Linked DNA regions of Homo sapiens. The protein of the gene in region 1 interacts with the protein of each later gene in a pairwise test. Each region holds a gene or a part of one and is shown in the gene's direction. Other genes may lie near its edges.

Region 1 (8,210 bases):
CAAACACTGAGTTCAAGCTCGAGTACCCAAATAGTGAATTCGGGGGAGTCAGGACCAGAGAATGGTGATCTAGACCTTTTCACTCGGCATTTGCTTAGACCGGGCATTGGCAGACTTTTTCTGTAAAAGGCCACATAGTAAATATTTTGACTTTGCAGTACGAAAGCAGCTATGGACATGATGTAATAGAATGATTGTGGCTGTCTACCAACAAGATTTTATTAACAAGAGCGAGTGGGTGCTGGGGTTTGGCCTGGGGCCCTGGTTTGCTAACCCCTGGCTCTGAGGGTCCTTGGCCTGTTATGGGGTGGGGTGGGGACTCCCCTAGACTCTGCAAGTCTGGGCCTCCCTGTCTGTGAGATGGGGGTAGATAACAGTGCCATCAGGTTGAAGATGTAGGGATTGGTTCAGAGTCTTTAACACAGAGCATGGCACCCAGTGTCTAAGCAGTGAGTTGCTGTGGTTGTTACCGATGAGCCAAGTGTTTGATCCTCCCTGACACAAAAGTAAACTGGGGCTGGTGACACCTTGGAGCCTCCCCCTGGGTCTAACGCCGTCTAGAAGAGCCAGGTACTAAGGATTAGAAAGACAGGCAGGGCAGAGAGGGGCTGAGCCAGGCACCCGGCCCTGTGATGCCCTTTCTGCAGGCCTCTGTGGGTAAGTCTTCCTCACTGGTGTCTTCATTTATCTGCAGATGTGCTAGCACTTGGGGATGGAGTATCTTCATATGTAATGCAGGTGGCTGTAAGGGAGTACTGCCTTATCAGGGACTAACTTTTCCCTGTGGCTTTTATTCTCAGGACTGCAGGTTTTCTAATATAAATAAGAGTAGACTGTGCTCTGTATCCACGGGTTCCGCATCCTTGGATTTAACTAACCTCATGTTGAACATACTCAAAATAATAACAATAAATAGTACAACAATAAAATAATATGAGCTTAACAACACAGTACAACAAAGACTTCCACAGCATTTACATTGCATCAGGTATTATAAGGAATCTCAAGATGATGTAAAGTGTACATGAGGATGTGCATAGGGTACATGCAAACTCTACACCATCCCCGGGTTTTGATATCCGAGGGGAGTCCTGGAACCAGTTCCCAGCAGACACGGAGGGATTGTACGTTGCTTTAAGTCGCAGCAGGAATGGTGTCTCTCTAGGCTTTATTTTCCTCTCTAGGAAAATTGTTTAATTTTTCCAGGCCATAAAGAAAACACATGCTGGTAAATATTTTTAAAATATAGAAACACCTAATTTAGAAAGAAGCGTCTCTTATAGTTTCCAGGGAAACCAGGTTAACAGGTAAAGCTGGGATCATTGACTTGAAGTTGATCACGTTGGTACTAGATTATAGACATCTCTATTTTTATTGATTGATTGCTTGATTGTTTGAGGCAGGGTCACACTCTTATCACCCACACTGGAGTGCAGTGGCACGTTCATAGCTTTCTGCAGCCTTGAACTCCCAGGATCAAGCAATCTTCCTGCCTCAGCCCCCTGAGTAGCTAGGACTACAGGCATGCACCGCCACACCCAGCTAATTTTTTTTTTTTTCCTGTGGTGACAAGGTCTCATTATGTTGTCCAGGCTTGTCTTGAATTCCTGGCCTCAAGCAATCCTCCTGCCTTGGCCTCCAAAATTGCTGAGATTACGAGGTTGAGCCACCGCATCCAACCCTGACATCTCTATTTTTTAAACGACTCATTCCATAGCTGAGAGAGGGGTGCCTGGGTTGCAGAGGAAGAGGGTAGGGATACATGTTGCTAAGTTGCTTTCCCAAAGGGCGTGCCCGGAGCATGTGCCAGTTTTGAATATCAGCTTGTAATATTCCTACACGTTGGAACATTGTTTTAGTAAGCAAGCATTTGACACCTGCATGTGTGTTAAGATGCTTTCTGCGTTGTCAGCCAAGGAAAGCCCCATATGCAGCGTCAGCTGCAGACGCACAGTTTTCAGCTGTGCATCTCTTCTCTCCAAGCCACACTCAGTTTTGAACACACGGTGACACCTGAGAAGCATGGTGACTGCTCTGATGAAGCCTTTTGTTTTGCTTTCAGACAATGAGTATATATTTATGGATTTGGAGCAAAAGCTCAGCAAGTACTTCTCAAAAGATTGGAAGAAAGAAAGAAATGAAGTAAGTGTAGAGTGTCGGGTGGGAGAGGGCAGGCACCGCGGTGGGCTGTGCTGGGCCACGGGGACACGTGGGGTGGGAGAGAGCAGGCACCGCGGTGGGCTGTGGGGGACCGCGGGGATGCGTGGGTTGGGAGAGAGCAGGGCACCACGGTGGACAGTGGTGGGATGCGTGGGGTGGGAGAGGGCAGGCACCGCGGTGGACTGTGCTGGACCAATGTGCTGCCTTCTGTCCACGCAGCTGCTCCGTCCAGAGGGGCTGTCCGCAGGGGGACTGTGGTGAGCCCTGAGGCTGCAAGCAGGTGTGCCCGCCCGAAGCCCGCCTTTGCAGATGTTCTTGAACGCTGTAGACCACGTCCCACTCAGGGTTCTCCGGGTAGAAAATACCATGAGTCGAATTGTCAGCTATGGCTGCAGACACCTGAGCTTCGACTTTAAGCTGAGTGTGAAGCAATCCAGGCCCCCCCAACTGGGAAGACAGGACAGCCAGCGGCACCTCCCTGCGGCTCACTTGCTCTTTCTTGCATTTTCCCCACTAGGGAAATGAGAAACCCAGAGCCCCCTTCGTGGCCTTCCTCCGAGTGCAGCACTACGTGGAAAACGGAAGGGTCATAAGGTAACGGCATGCGGACTGTAAGGGGTGTTTCCTGGAATACTGAAAATCTGCCGCATGACGTGGAAGTCCCCTGAAGGCCACACATTACATTTGAGTTTATCCAAAAACAAAAAACAAACAAACAACCCCACTATATCGGCTGTTTGCTTTGGGGTTAACACAGGAATTCTATTTAATCGAAAGGTATACAGACTGTGTCATAAATTGGTACTTCTTTTTCTTTTCTTTTTCTTTTTGTTTTGTTTTGTTTTGTTTTGAGACGGAGTTTCACTCTTGTCGCCCAGGCTGGAGTGCAATGGCACAATCTCGACTCACTGCAACCTCCACCTCCTGGGTTCAAGCGATTCTTCTGCCTTAGTCTCCAGAGTAGCTGGGATTACAGGCGGGCGCCACCACACCTGGCTAATTTTGTATTTTCAGTAGAGACGGGGTTTCTCTGTGTTGGTCAAGCTGGTCTCAAACTCCCGACCTCAGGTGATCCACCCGCCTCGACCTCCCAAAGTGCTGGGATTACAGGTGTGAGCCACCGTGCCCGGCCTAAAGTGGTACTTCCTCAAATGCCAGGACTCGTACTCTCTAGGGTGGGTATACCATCCGGGGGTGGGCGAGGCTTCTGGAGGTCGCTGGGCTAAGGGCTGCTATGCTTGCTGCGTGGCGGTTCTCGCTGTTCACTGCCCACTCTGCAGGTGTCTAGTGGGAAGCTTTCCCCGACAGGAGTGGGTAAGTTGTACATCTGGTGGGCTGCACTCTAAACCAACGGGGGCTGCTTCTTCCAGAGCTGCCTTAGAGCTTCTAGGGTAACAAAGACGTCCCTCAGGAGGATCCTGAGACTTACTTCCAGAACAGAGCTTCAGGGGTGCGTGAACAGGGTTTACCCTGGGGGAAAACCTAAGGGGGTTTCCCAGGAATTCCCTAAGCAGGCACAATCCCTGCCAGTTCCAAAAGGCATGTGTGCGGTTGTGTGGAAGGTTCTAGGGGGTGAGGGGCGTGTGGTTGTGTGGGAGGGTTCTGGAGAGTGAAAGGTGTGTGGTTGTGTGGAGAGCCCTGGAGACACTGGTATGTGGTTGTGTGGCAGGTTCTGGAGAGTGAGGGGTGTGTGAATATGTGGAAGGTTCTGGATAGCCTTGGAGGGGAGGTCTGGAAAGTGTTGGGTTGATGGATGGAGCTACCTGGTGCTATGGGGCCAGTTCGGGGGAATTATATGAGAAGATCTTGCACCTGCATCTTGGGCGAGCCTCCACCTGGCCTGTGATTAATGAATACCAGCCATGGCCAAGCCCCGTGCTGGGCGGTGAGCTCTGGGAGCCAGGTCTGTCCACATCCAGGGATTCAAGTTGTCCAGGCCCTGTGCACCTCCAGGGATTCGAGTCGCCCGGGCTCTGTGCACCTCTCCTGCACTGGGGCTTGGTTTGGTGAAGGCCAAGCTCACTGGGGAAGGAGTGGGACCTCGGCAGGTGGAGCCTCATCTAGTGGCTCCTTGGTGGCAGCAAGTCACCTGTGCCCCGCTCCAGGAAGAGTGTGGGCCTGTGCCGTGCTGGCCCTGCAGGGACACAGCTGTGGGTATAACAAGACAGGAACTAGGTACCAGGGGCTCAGGACAGCCCTGGGAGCTGGTGTGGGGAGGGACAAGGCAGGGCCAGAGGGGCCAGCAGTCCCCACACCGGTCGTCCTGGAACTCACTCCCTGCCACCTTCCAGCGACCACAGGGCACGGCACCTGTACTACTGCCACTTGAAGGAGCGCGTGCTGAGGTCACAGTGCGCTCACCGGGAGGAAGCCTACTTCCTGCTGGCTGCCTGCGCGCTGCAGGCTGACCTGGGCGAGCACCGGGAGTCGGCCCATGCCGGGAGGTACTTCGAGCCACACTCCTACTTCCCACAGTGGGTAAGGTCAGGGCCCACCTCCTCCCAGCACTGCTAGTCTGGTGCCTGTCCACCTCCACCGGGTGCCATCCATGGGAGCAGGGGACTGAGGGCCTGGCAGGGGCTGCTGGAGCAAGGGTCAGGGATGGAAACAGGGCAATCACCTGTCCTTCTGTCCTGAAGGCCCAAGGGTCCTTACCACCCCCAAAGGCAGGCAGTGTGGGAGGAGTGGCCCTGAGCAGGCAGGTGTGGGTGCCTGTGCTCCTGACGCACCCAGCCAGCTGTGTGGCCTTGCACTCTGGCTTCACCTCTCTGAGCCCCTTGGCTGCCTGGCTGTGGAATGTGACCCACACGGGCCTTGTGGCTGTGAACCTTCCTGCTTCTCTCTAAGTATCCTGGGACCCGTAGGAGTCTCTGAGCCTCAGCTTCCTCACCTGTAAGGGAAGGAGTGGCATCCCCCTGGGAGGAGGGCCATGGAGAGGCGTGGGCTGTACCACTGTGTGCCCAGTCCCAGGCGCTGTCTGGCCTGATGGCCGCGCGGATTGATGGCTGTCACCCCGGGGATGCAGGCCCTGTTCCGGGTGAACTTTAAGGTTTCTCTCCTTGACCGCTCATCCCTGTGTACCTCTCTATCCTGTGCACCTTGGGGCCTTCTCACCTTTGCTCTGAGGCAGTCGCTGAGGTCAGGGTGGGGCCCAGCCAGGCTTCCTCCCAGTGCTGTGGATGCCACACGTGCCCTTGGCCTCTGAGCACATTTCCACCCTCAGTGATTCCACGTCCCTGCGATTCTTACCCCGGTCCCGGTGATGGCCCCAGCTGGTCCTCACTGGGCAGGTTCCCAAGAGCCAGGGCTCGTTGGGAGTAGAGTCCCCACCTGCAGACGTCTGAGGAGGGCTGGCTGCTGCCATTCCCCTTGGGGAGGACCCGAGGGGGACAGGAAATCAGACAGGGCCCAGGGCCACAGTGGGCACTGAGACTTCATCTCTGGTTCTGGGCTCAGCAGCCAGGCCCTGGCCCTGCCCACCGAGGTTGGCACCAGCTGTGGGAGTCTGGGGAAGCTTCTCGGAGCAGGGGGCTGGCAAGGAGGAAGGGGGGACCAGCAGGGGTCTGAGCTGACCTCCCGGCTCTGTCCTCAGATCATCACCAAGAGGGGGATTGACTACATCCTCCGGCACATGCCTACCCTGCACCGTGAGCGCCAGGGCCTGAGCCCCAAGGAGGCCATGCTGTGCTTCATCCAGGAGGCCTGCCGGCTGGAGGACGTGCCCGTGCACTTCTTCAGGCTGCACAAGGTCGAGCCCAGGGCGGCCAGCGATGGGCTGGACTCTGACTCCAGGCCAGGGATGCACGGAGCCCCCATGGCTGAGTGGGATCAGGACCCCAGGGCAGGGATGGATGGAGCCCCCATGGCTAAGAGTGGGACCAGGACCCCGGGGCAGGGATAGATGGAGCCCCCATGGCTAAGAGTGGGATCAGGACCCCAGGCCAGGGACGGATGGAGCCCCCATGGCTAAGAGTGGTCAGGACCCCAGGGCAGGGATGGATGGAGCCCCCGTGGCTAAGAGTGGGACCAGGACCCCGGGGCAGGGATGGATGGAGCCCCCGTGGCTAAGAGTGGGATGGGACCAGGACCCCAGGGCAGGGATGGATGGAGCCCCCGTGGCTGAGTGGGACCAGGACCCCGGGCCCGGCATGGCCAGGCTCTCTTAGGTCGTGGCTGGTGTTTATCTGGCATGATGAAAGGCAGTGCTTGTGCTATGACAACTATGCCTTTGATCTGATGCTGGAGTGAATGAGACTGTCTGTAAATGGGCCCCAGAGCTCAGCCTGGTCCATGGAGCCCTCGGCCCCTAGCCAGACTGACCATACTCTGCCATCAGTGAGGCCCAGCACCTCCAGGCCTGCAACTTGACCTCTGACCTGTGTCCTCTAGGATAAGAAGGAAGGTCGTCCCACCGTGATCCTGGGACTGGCCCTCAGGGGAGTGCACATCTACCAGGTGACCGAAGGGGCTCCAGCCTCACAGAGCCCCTCGTCCTGCCCCCACCCCCTCCTCCCTTCCCCACTGGAGTCTGGGCTGTGTAGCATCCCTGCAGCGGTCATGGGCGCTGGCTGGCCCTGCCTGGACGCGCCCTGCCTCTGCTGTCCCGCAGGAGGTGGACCGTGCTCCGCAGCTGCTGTACGACCTCCCCTGGCCCCACGTTGGGAAGCTGGCATTTCTGGTGGGTGTCTGGGGGGTCCCCGTGCCCTGGAAAGCCTGGGCAGATGCAGCTTCATCCTCGGGGCATTTTCTGGACAATTCTGCACCCGAAGAGGTGCAGGTCCCTTCCTGCCGGCCTCTCGGGGGCATCAGGGCCGTCCTGGCCTCACGGGCTTTGTGCCTGGCCCTGGCCCTGCAGGCGTGGGGTGTTTAGCTGCCCGGTGAGGTCTAGTTGTTGTTATCGCTTGAAAACTTCTGGCTCCCAATTGAGAAAATCAAGGGAGAAAAGAAGAGCAGGTCATAGAAACGCACCTGTGTGGCCTCTGTTCCTCTCATCCCGGCCCCAGAGCTGTCACCCAGGGTCACCCCACAGCCCGGGTGCCGGGGATAAAAGGGCAGTGACTGTGGGGGCTGCTGGACAGCAGGCTTGCTCTGGACAGCCAGACCGAGGTCTTCCTGTCCCACCCCAGACCTCCACTCCCCTCACACTGCTGCGGGCACTTTCTAGCCAGGAGGGCTGTGTCCTCTCAAGCAAGGGCGGAGCAGAGCACAGTGTCCGCGCACAGTGTCCGCCAACAGCCATCTGCACTGCGAAGTGAAAACCTGGGCCTCGTCCCCCTGGGGGCCATGGCTGACATTTAAAATCATCCTTTCCTGTGGCTAGCGTGGTTTTCCACCTGTGGAGTGGCAACTTCTCTCCTGTTTGCTCAGGGAAAGAAGCTGGAGATCCAGCTGGATGGGCTGCCCGCAGCACAGAAGCTGGTTTACTACACGGGGTGCACCTGGCGGTCCAGGCACCTGCTGCACCTGCTGCGCGCCAGCCACCAGCTCCACCTCCGCGTGCGGCCCACTCTGCAACAGCTGCGGCAGCGGGAGGAGGCAGAAGGTGGGGCTGGGCTGGGTATGCTGGGCTCCGCAGCCGGACTGTGCCTTCTGGGCTAGGCTGGGCACACTGGGCTCTGGCCGGACTATGCCTTCTGTCTCTTATTGTTGTGGCCTCCTGACTCCCACGTCCCCCAGATGCTGAGGTCGAAGGGCGAAGTGGTGGCCCCCAGCTCTGCCTGGAGTGGAATTCTATAGATGGGACTGGGGGAAGCTGGGAGCTTGAGGAGCCACCTGAGGTTTCCACTTCTCAGTTTCCTGGTCTGTTTTCCACTTCTCCTCCCATCATGTGCCCACAAAGAGCAAGAAATGCAGGTTCCGACAAGGCCTCAGTGTTTACCCACAGGCCTGGTCTCCCTTCCTGTTCCACATCCTCACCTGAGCACAAGGCCTGGCCTTAGTGTTTACCCACAGGCCTGGCCTCCCTCCCTGTTCCACATCCTCACCTGAGCACAAGACCTGGCCTCAGCGTTTACCCACAGGCCTGGTCTCCCTCCCTGTTCCACGTCCTC
Region 2 (8,210 bases), on another chromosome or scaffold:
TTATTGTGTGAAGATTTTCACAGTATCCTGGCTGAAAGTGACTACTCCGTTTCTGAATTTATGTTTCTCACTTTGTGTCATTCTTCTGATATTGATCCCAGACTTTTCTGTTGTATAGATACTTGTATAGGCACCTCTATTATGTAGGTACCTATTATATACTTCTTGAAGTCAGAAAAGATGTTTTGTATGGCTCTGTATTTCTTTCAGGAAGAGCGTAGTAGAAGGTAGGCCCTGTATATTTAACTAATAAGAGAGGAGCCAAACAGGCTACTATATTCCTGTTTGTATATATTAATAACTTAACAGAAGTGGTGTCGTTGTTGTTGTTGTTGTTGCCCAGTTCTGCCACCTTCTTGCTTACTAATTTGGGCAAAATCCTTTACCATATTTCTTTAATGCAGAGTGTACCCATAGTTGTAAGATACACTCAGTGTGGCCCTCCCCTAGAAAAGATGACTTTAAAATCAGTAATGTGAGATCCACTTTGATTTTTTAAAAAGTCAGGGTCAAAAACATGCATCTTAGAATGAAGGAAATCACCTAATTTTTCTGTTTCCCTGTTTCCGTAACCTATAACCTTCTCTCAGTATGTGGGATAAAATGAGGATAAATGTGAAAGTACTTTGATTTCTCAAAGGAAAGGAACAATGCACATTTTTCCTTTTCAGAATTCCCTCTTTAATAGAAGAGGTTTTAAAAACTTTTACATGATCATGATGATACTATTGAGCTGTTTTCTTACTGTAAGACTAAATGCAGTTAAAATGTAGCTTTAAATTTTTTCCTTGTTCCTGTCTTGTTTCTGAATCATTTAGTAAAATGTGTCATTTAAATCTAGATGTAAAGTGGAAAGTGGTTTTTAATAAGCAGTTAATTATCAAGCATGGAGAGAAAAAATACGAATCTATAGTAATTTTTCTTCTGAAATTCTAGCATCTGCCAACCATTTTAACCTTATCACTAACCCTCCCTGCTGCTCAACGCTCAGCAAGGTAAACAAAGGCACAGGTTTGGTTGTGTTCTTATTTCTGCTAATATCTGAAGCACTCCTTCTTGTTCTTCCCTATCAAAAAAAGTTATGTCAAAAATTTTTGTCACCTGGCCAACTCCTTTTTATCCATTCTTTTGAGAGTTTAACAAATCCTACCACTCCCTGTTGCATTTTATGCTGGTCCCCTCCTCTCTTCCCTCATTCTGTTTCCCTTCTCTTCAGTCCCAGTCCCACTTACATTTTATTTTTTATTTTTCACTCTTATGTATATACCCACCACTTCCATTTTATTTTATTTTACTTATATTATTTATCTATCTATTGAGACATGATCTCTGTTGCCCAGGCAGGAGTGCAGTGGCACTATCACGGCTCACTCACTACAGCTTCAGTCTCCTGGGCCTAAGCAATCCTCCCACCTAAGTCTTCCAAGTAGCTGGGAACACAGGCACATGCCACCATGCCTGGCTAATTTTTAAATTTTTGTAGAGATGGGCTCTCACTGTGTTGCTCAGGCTGGTCTCAAACTCCTGGGCTTAAGCCATCCTCCCACTTCAGCCTCCCAAAGTGCCAGATTACAAGCACAAGCCACAGCTCTCAGCCCCACTTGCATTTTAAATTATCTTTTTAGTTAGGAAGGTCTTTGCCTTTGTCTTAGATGCCAGGGTACACCATTGAGTGTCAGATTTATTTAATAGTTAAGTGGATGGATCCTTGAGGGGAGGCACTAGGTGATGTTTCAGCTGAAATTAGAATGATGAGTAGGCACCGCCAGAGTGGGCATGGGGGAATGTCTGGTATGTAGTTGAAAGTTTATTTCTGGCTCAGGAGAGAGTAATCTGGGATAGAGACTTGGGAGCTAATAACATAAAATGGAGTCCCTATTACCTGAGAGTTCATTTTCTGAGCTTTTGAAATTACAAGGTTATGTAGGGAAGAAAAATTCTCATGATATGAAAATAATTATTAATAAGTTATCACCTTAAAAAATTAACTACTCAAGCTTACTTCTAATTCCCATCCTCCTGATTGGCGTAGGGGCTTGCTGATCATAATATAGTTCAAATTAGTTGCAAAGTGAAATTATGTATCATGCTAAAATTGCAAGCATTTGTTTCTTTTTTTTGAGATGGAGTTTTGCTCTTGTCACCCAGGCTGGAGTGCAGTGGCGCCATCTGGGTTCACTGCAACCTCCACCTCTTAGGTTCAAGCGATTCTCCTGCCTCAGCCTCCCCAGTAGCTGGGATTACAGGCGTCTGCCCCCACGCCCAGCTGATTTTTGTATTTTTAGTAGAGATGGAGTTTTGCCATGTTGGTCTGACTGGGTCTCGAACTCCTGACCTCAGGTGGTCCACTCACCTCGGCCTCCTTAAGTGCTGGGATTACAGGTGTGAGCCACCGCGGCAAGGCAGCATTTGTTTCTTTGATGCAAGTGATTTGGAGCATTGGTTCACATGCAAAACCATTGACAAATGGGGATCTGACAAAGTTGTCCTCCTGGAATGAAGTAGGTGGTGATTGTTCATTGAATGAATTGACAGATGAAAGCTTGGATGTAATGGTGGGAAATACTAGTGTTCATGGGGCACATGGGGAAAGTTATCAGCATAGTAGGCTAACAAGGAATAATCAAAAGAGCAAGAGAGACCTGGGCAGTACAGTGTCATGGAATCTGCAGAGAAGGCAGATCCCAGAGAGGGAGTGGTTACCAGTGTCATGTGCAGTAGAGGTCAGGGACTATTGGTTGAAATGGTAGGAAGACATTAGTGCTTTGACACAGTGTTTGATTCAGATGTCAGTGAGGGGGAGAACTAAGGTGTATTTTCATTTATGTTGTTAAAAAACTGTGGATTTTTATATATGTGTAAATAAAAAAAGTCCCAAGACTACACACTTAACCGTTACTTCTGGGGAGGAGAGTAGAATTATATGCTTATATTGATTACACTGAAAGAGTTGGTGTTGGTGAAATGGGGCTTTTTATATTGTAGGGTCCTCCTACTTTCTTTTTTAAAAAAAAATTTAAACAATATCACACATAGTATTGGTGGTTTTACAAAAAGAGTTATTGGGAAGTTACAAGTAGAACCATGCATGGGTTATTTTATTGAAGAATAAATGTGAGTGTGTGTTTGTATTTTAAGATAGGAGAGACTTGAGGTTGAAAGGTTAAATACAAGAGAAGGGGAGGTAAGGAGCAAAGTTGTAGAGGATTTGGGGAAGGATTGGGGAAGGAAGGGGATTAGATTCTCAATAGCTCTAGAGAAAAACAGAAGGAAGACCTCTTCCTGTGGGAGACTCAAATTTGAGTTTCTTTAGATTCTTGTGAATCACTGGAGTGTTTGTTTAAAAAAAAAAATATTCAGCAGCCCAACCCCTAGAGATTTTGATTGACTAGATTTGAGGTGGAGCTGAATGTTGCAAAACCTGCGGCCAGAAGTACTAGTCATTTTATTTTATTATATAAGCAGATTTGTTAGAATTACCTTCAAAAAACAACCTGGGAAGTTCAGAGGTAGAAAAATTCTATTAAAGCTTTTTTATTGAGATGTAGCATGCATATAAAAGAATATATAAAATACATATACACAGTTTAATAGTTTTAAAGAATAATGATAAACACCCATGCAAAAGGACTCCACATTCTTTTTCTTTTTTTTTTTTTCTTGAGACAGTCTCGCTGTCACCCAGGCTGGAGTGCAGTGGCGCAATCTCAGCTCACTGCAACTTCTGCCTCCTGGATTCACGCCATTCTCCTGCCTCAGCCTCCCGAATAGCTGGGACTACAGGCGCCCGCCACCACGCCCGGCTAATTTTTTGTATTTTTAGTGAAGACGGGCTTTCACTGTGTTAGCCAGGATTGTCTTGATCTCCTGACCTCGTGATCCGCCCGCCTCTGCCTCCCAAAATGCTGGGATTACAGGCATGAGCCACCACGCCCGGCCAAGGACTCCACATTCTTACATATGTCTCTTTCTCAACCAGTTTTCCACTGGCCTGAATTTTATATTAATCCTCCCCTGCTTTTCTTCATAGTTGTATCACTTATGGATTCCTAAACTGTATTATTTAGTTTTGCCCATTTTTAGATGTGCTTAGCTGTTTCATTTATCAAATGAGAGCTGAAACATATCTTTTAACATCATTTACAATTTAGATGATATACTTTTGTTAACCTTCATTTTTTTTTTTTTTTTTGAGACAAGTCTCGCTTTGTCGCCCAGGCTAGAGTGCAGTGGCGCGATCTCGGCTCACTGCAAGCTCCGTCTCCCGGGTTCACACCATTCTCCTGCCTCAGCCTCCCAAGTAGCTGGGACTACAGGCGCCCATGACCATGCCTGGCTAATTTTTTGTGTTTTTAGTAGAGACGGGGTTTCACCATGTTAGCCAGGATAGTCTCGATCTCCTGACCTCGTGATCCGCCTGCCTCGGCCTCCAAATTTTTGCTTTATATATATTATTGGTAGTCTTTCAGGATTTTTGACTAGCTCTTTTCTGTCTGTTTTCTAACCCAGTTTATTTACTACTTCCTCCCCCTAATATTTATACCGTGCCTGAGACTTTATAGTGAATCATAGAGGCTATTGTCCCTGTTGTTCTCATTCCTTTTTACCTTTCTTAAACTCCTCTGGTGACTCTCCCTACTCATCTTCTCAATTGGTGTTCTGTCCTTTCTGTCCCATGCCATTCCTGTCCAGCATGAAAGTTTCTCTTTTATCTCCCCAACTGCTTCCCTCCTTCATTTTAATTCTTCAGCTCTCCTCCTCTTGCAGTAGCCAGTCAGTTTGATGTTTTATTTGAGCAGACCCTAATTTTGCCATCTCAGCTGTTTTTCCCTTTCCTTCTGGCCCAGCTGTGCTTACTTCATTTGTTATTCTCTGCTCACTTTAGTCTATGAGGCTGTGTCCTTTGCTACAAAAGATGCAGCCATATGCAGACCTCTCTTGTCCCTCTCCTAACTTTACATTTTCTAAAAGAAACTGTCCCATTTGATTTCATTAGCCTTGATTATTTGCAAGTTTTAAAATACTCTAGTTTTAGCTGTTACTTTTCACTTGTAAGTAAGAGATCCCTGGCAAAAAGGTTCTAGATTCTCTCTCCTGTAATGCACACATAGTAGCCCCCTTTTAATTTCTGCAGTGTTTCTTAACTCAAACTATTAATATTTGGTTCTCATCCATGGAAATGCTGTTTTAGTCACTCTCCGGGGAGTCCCAGACATCAGTATTTTTAAAAAGTATTGTTTGTATTGATGGTAGTACTGTAACATTCCACTGCTGGTAAGCCATGGGCCTTTTTTGCTTATTTTTCTAAAATTGATTCTTCTTTTTCTGCTGCCAAGTTTTCTGCTTTGGGGGATTTTATTTAATCCCTAAGGTGTAGCCAGACTGAATTTGTATGGAATTCTCCATCACATTAGCTTTTGGCATTGTGGTCTGTATAGCAGATTCTCATGAGTAATCCTCCACACTTTTTATAGTTCCTACACCATATCAAAAGCTTATTATCTGTTAATTCTTCAACAGATACATGAGATTACTGTTTTACAGATGGAGAAACTGAGTTGTGTCATTTGGGGCAAATTATCTTAGTAGATGGTTGATCTGGTTTGGCTCTGTGTCCCACTCGAATCTCATCTCAAATTTTAATTTCTGTAGTCCCCACGTGTTGAGGGAGGGATCCCATGGAAGGTGATTGGATCATGGGGTCAGTTTCCCCCATGCTGATCTGGTGATAGTGAGTGCTCATGAGATCTGATGGTTTTATAAGTGTTTGACAGTTCCTCATTCATACTCTGTTTTTCTCCTGCCGCCACGTAATATGTGCCTGCTTCCCCTTCTGCCATGATTATAAGTTTTCTGAGGCCTCCCCAGCCATGCAGAACTGTGAGTCAATTAAGCCTCTTTATAAATTACCCAGTCTCGGGTAGTATCTTTATAGCAGTGTGAAAACGAACGAATACAGTGGTAGAACAAAGATCTAGGGGTGTCTGACTCCACGGGCCATTCTCTTGATTACAGGGTGGTCTGGCTCCATTCCCCTTTGCTCTTTCTTTCCCCATATCTTCTGAGTTTTTACTTTTCATAGCCATAATGTAGCTTTAGGTTTCTCCCAGTTCTCACTTTAAAATATTCTCATTTTCAGGTATAGCTGAGAGTCACTGTGTTTTTAGCCAAATCTAAGGGAGAAAATGAATATTGATAGCAGCATGCTGTAGCCAGCTCCTTAAAGGAAGGATGGTGCCTGGTACAGAGTTAGAGTTAGTGCTTCAGTAAATAATGAATGTGTGCTAGGTAGGTTCTGCTGGGTAGGCTGCATGCATTGACCAATTTATTCCTCCTTGTTTCAAAACAGGATTTAAGGGCACTTATATATATATATTTTTTAGTTTTTTTAATGTAAATGAGAGAATAAAGATATATATATATGTCTATATATGTATATATGTATATATATGTCTATATGTCTATATGTATATATGTCTATATGTATATATGTGTGTGTGTACATATATATATATATATATATATATATATATATATATAAGTTTTCTGTTGCTAGCATAACAAACTACCAGAAACTTAGCAACTGAAACAACATGAATTTATCTTACGGTTCTATAGTTCAGAAGTCTAACGTGTCACTGGGATGAAATCCAGGTTTCAACAGGACTGGGTTCCCTTCTAGCTCATTCAGCTACCTGGCTCATTCAGGTTGTTGGCAGAATATACTTCCATGAAACTGTAGGGCTGAGACCCCGTTTCCTTCCTGGCTATCATCTGAGAGCTTTTCCCGACTTCTAGAGTCCACCCACCTACCCACATCCCTTGGCCCATGGCCCCCTTCCTCCATCTTCACAACCAACAACAGTGGGTCACGTCCTTCTTGTGTCTCATCTTTCTTGTTGGGCCATCCCAAGTCTCTCTGTTTTAGGAAAGGTTTTCCACTTTTAAGGACTCATGTGATTAGATTGGGCTTACCTGGATAATACATGCTAATCTCCCCATCTCAAGGTCTAATCTTAATCAAATCTACAAAATCCCCTTTGCCATGCTAGGGTAAAATATTCACAGGTTCTGGGGATTAGGATGTTAATATCTTTTGGAGGGCATTTTTCCGCTTACCATAAAGGCCTGCATTAGTCCATTCTCACACTGCTATAAAGAACTACCTGAGGCCAGGCATGATGGTTCACGCCTGTAATCCTAGCACTTTGGAGGCTGAGGCGGGTGGATTGCTTGCGCTGAGGAGTTCGAGACCAGCCTGGGCAACACGGTGAAACCCCATCTCTACTAAAATACAAAAAATTAGCCAGGCGTGGCGGCATGCGCCTGTAATCCCAGCTACTTGGGAGGCTGAGATGAGAGCATCATTTGAACCCGGGAGGGAGAGGTTGCAGTGAGCTGAGATGGCACCATTGCACTCCAGCCTGGGCGACAGTGCGAGACTCCATCTCAAAAAAAAAAAAAAAAAAAGAAGTACTTGGGACTGGGGAATTTATGAAGAAAAAGAGGTTTAATTAACTCACAATTCCACAGGCTGTAAAGGAAGCATGGCTGGGAGGCCTTAGGAAACTTATAATCATGGCAGAAGGTGAAGGGGAAGCAAGCACATCTAGCCATGTCAGACCAGGAAAGAGAGAGTGAAGGGGGAAGTGCTACACACTTTTAAGCAACCAGATCTCGTGAGAACTCACTGTCACTGAGAACAGCAAGGGGAGGAATCCACCTCTGTGACCCAATCAGCTCCCACCAGGCCCCTCCCCCAACATTGGAAATTACAATTTGATGTGAGATTTGGGTGGAGACACAGAGCCAGACAATTTCAAGGGCTAAGGAGCAAATGGTAGAAACAGTAAAATAAGATCAGAAGAGGTTTAATTGACTCACAGTTCTGGAGAGCTGGAGAGGCCTCAGGAAAATTACAATCATGGCAGAAGGCAAAGGGGAAGCAGGCACCTTCTTCACAAGGCGGCAGGAGAGGGACAATGGAGGAAGGGCCATGCCTTATTAAACAACCAGATTGGCCACTCCCCTAGCATGTGGGGATTACAATTCCAGATGAGATTTTCATGGGGACACAGAGCCAAACCATATCAGGACATTTATACTCAAAGTCTATGATATGAGGTGGTGTAGACTTCTTTGAAGTGGTCACTGAATTTAGCACTAACCAGTGCAAAAAGACAACCCTGCTCATTTACCCTAATCATAGT

What was found.
Region 2: the proteins of FRMD1 (region 1) and RAB2A interact in binary tests that used the Homo sapiens proteins (3 or more experiments, as listed by UniProt).

Annotation. Positions count from the first base shown.
Region 1 is NC_000006.12:168,061,299-168,069,508, reverse strand, and holds part of FRMD1 (FERM domain-containing protein 1), read left to right. Parts: intron 1-1,985; exon of another isoform or gene 1,986-2,022; coding exon of another isoform or gene 2,023-2,062; coding exon 2,063-2,142; intron 2,143-2,379; exon of another isoform or gene 2,380-2,677; coding exon 2,678-2,754; intron 2,755-3,174; exon of another isoform or gene 3,175-4,451; coding exon 4,452-4,638; intron 4,639-5,752; coding exon 5,753-5,908; intron 5,909-6,549; coding exon 6,550-6,615; intron 6,616-6,769; coding exon of another isoform or gene 6,770-6,838; intron 6,839-7,527; coding exon 7,528-7,702; intron 7,703-8,210.
Region 2 is NC_000008.11:60,519,518-60,527,727, forward strand, and holds part of RAB2A (ras-related protein Rab-2A), read left to right. Parts: intron 1-8,210.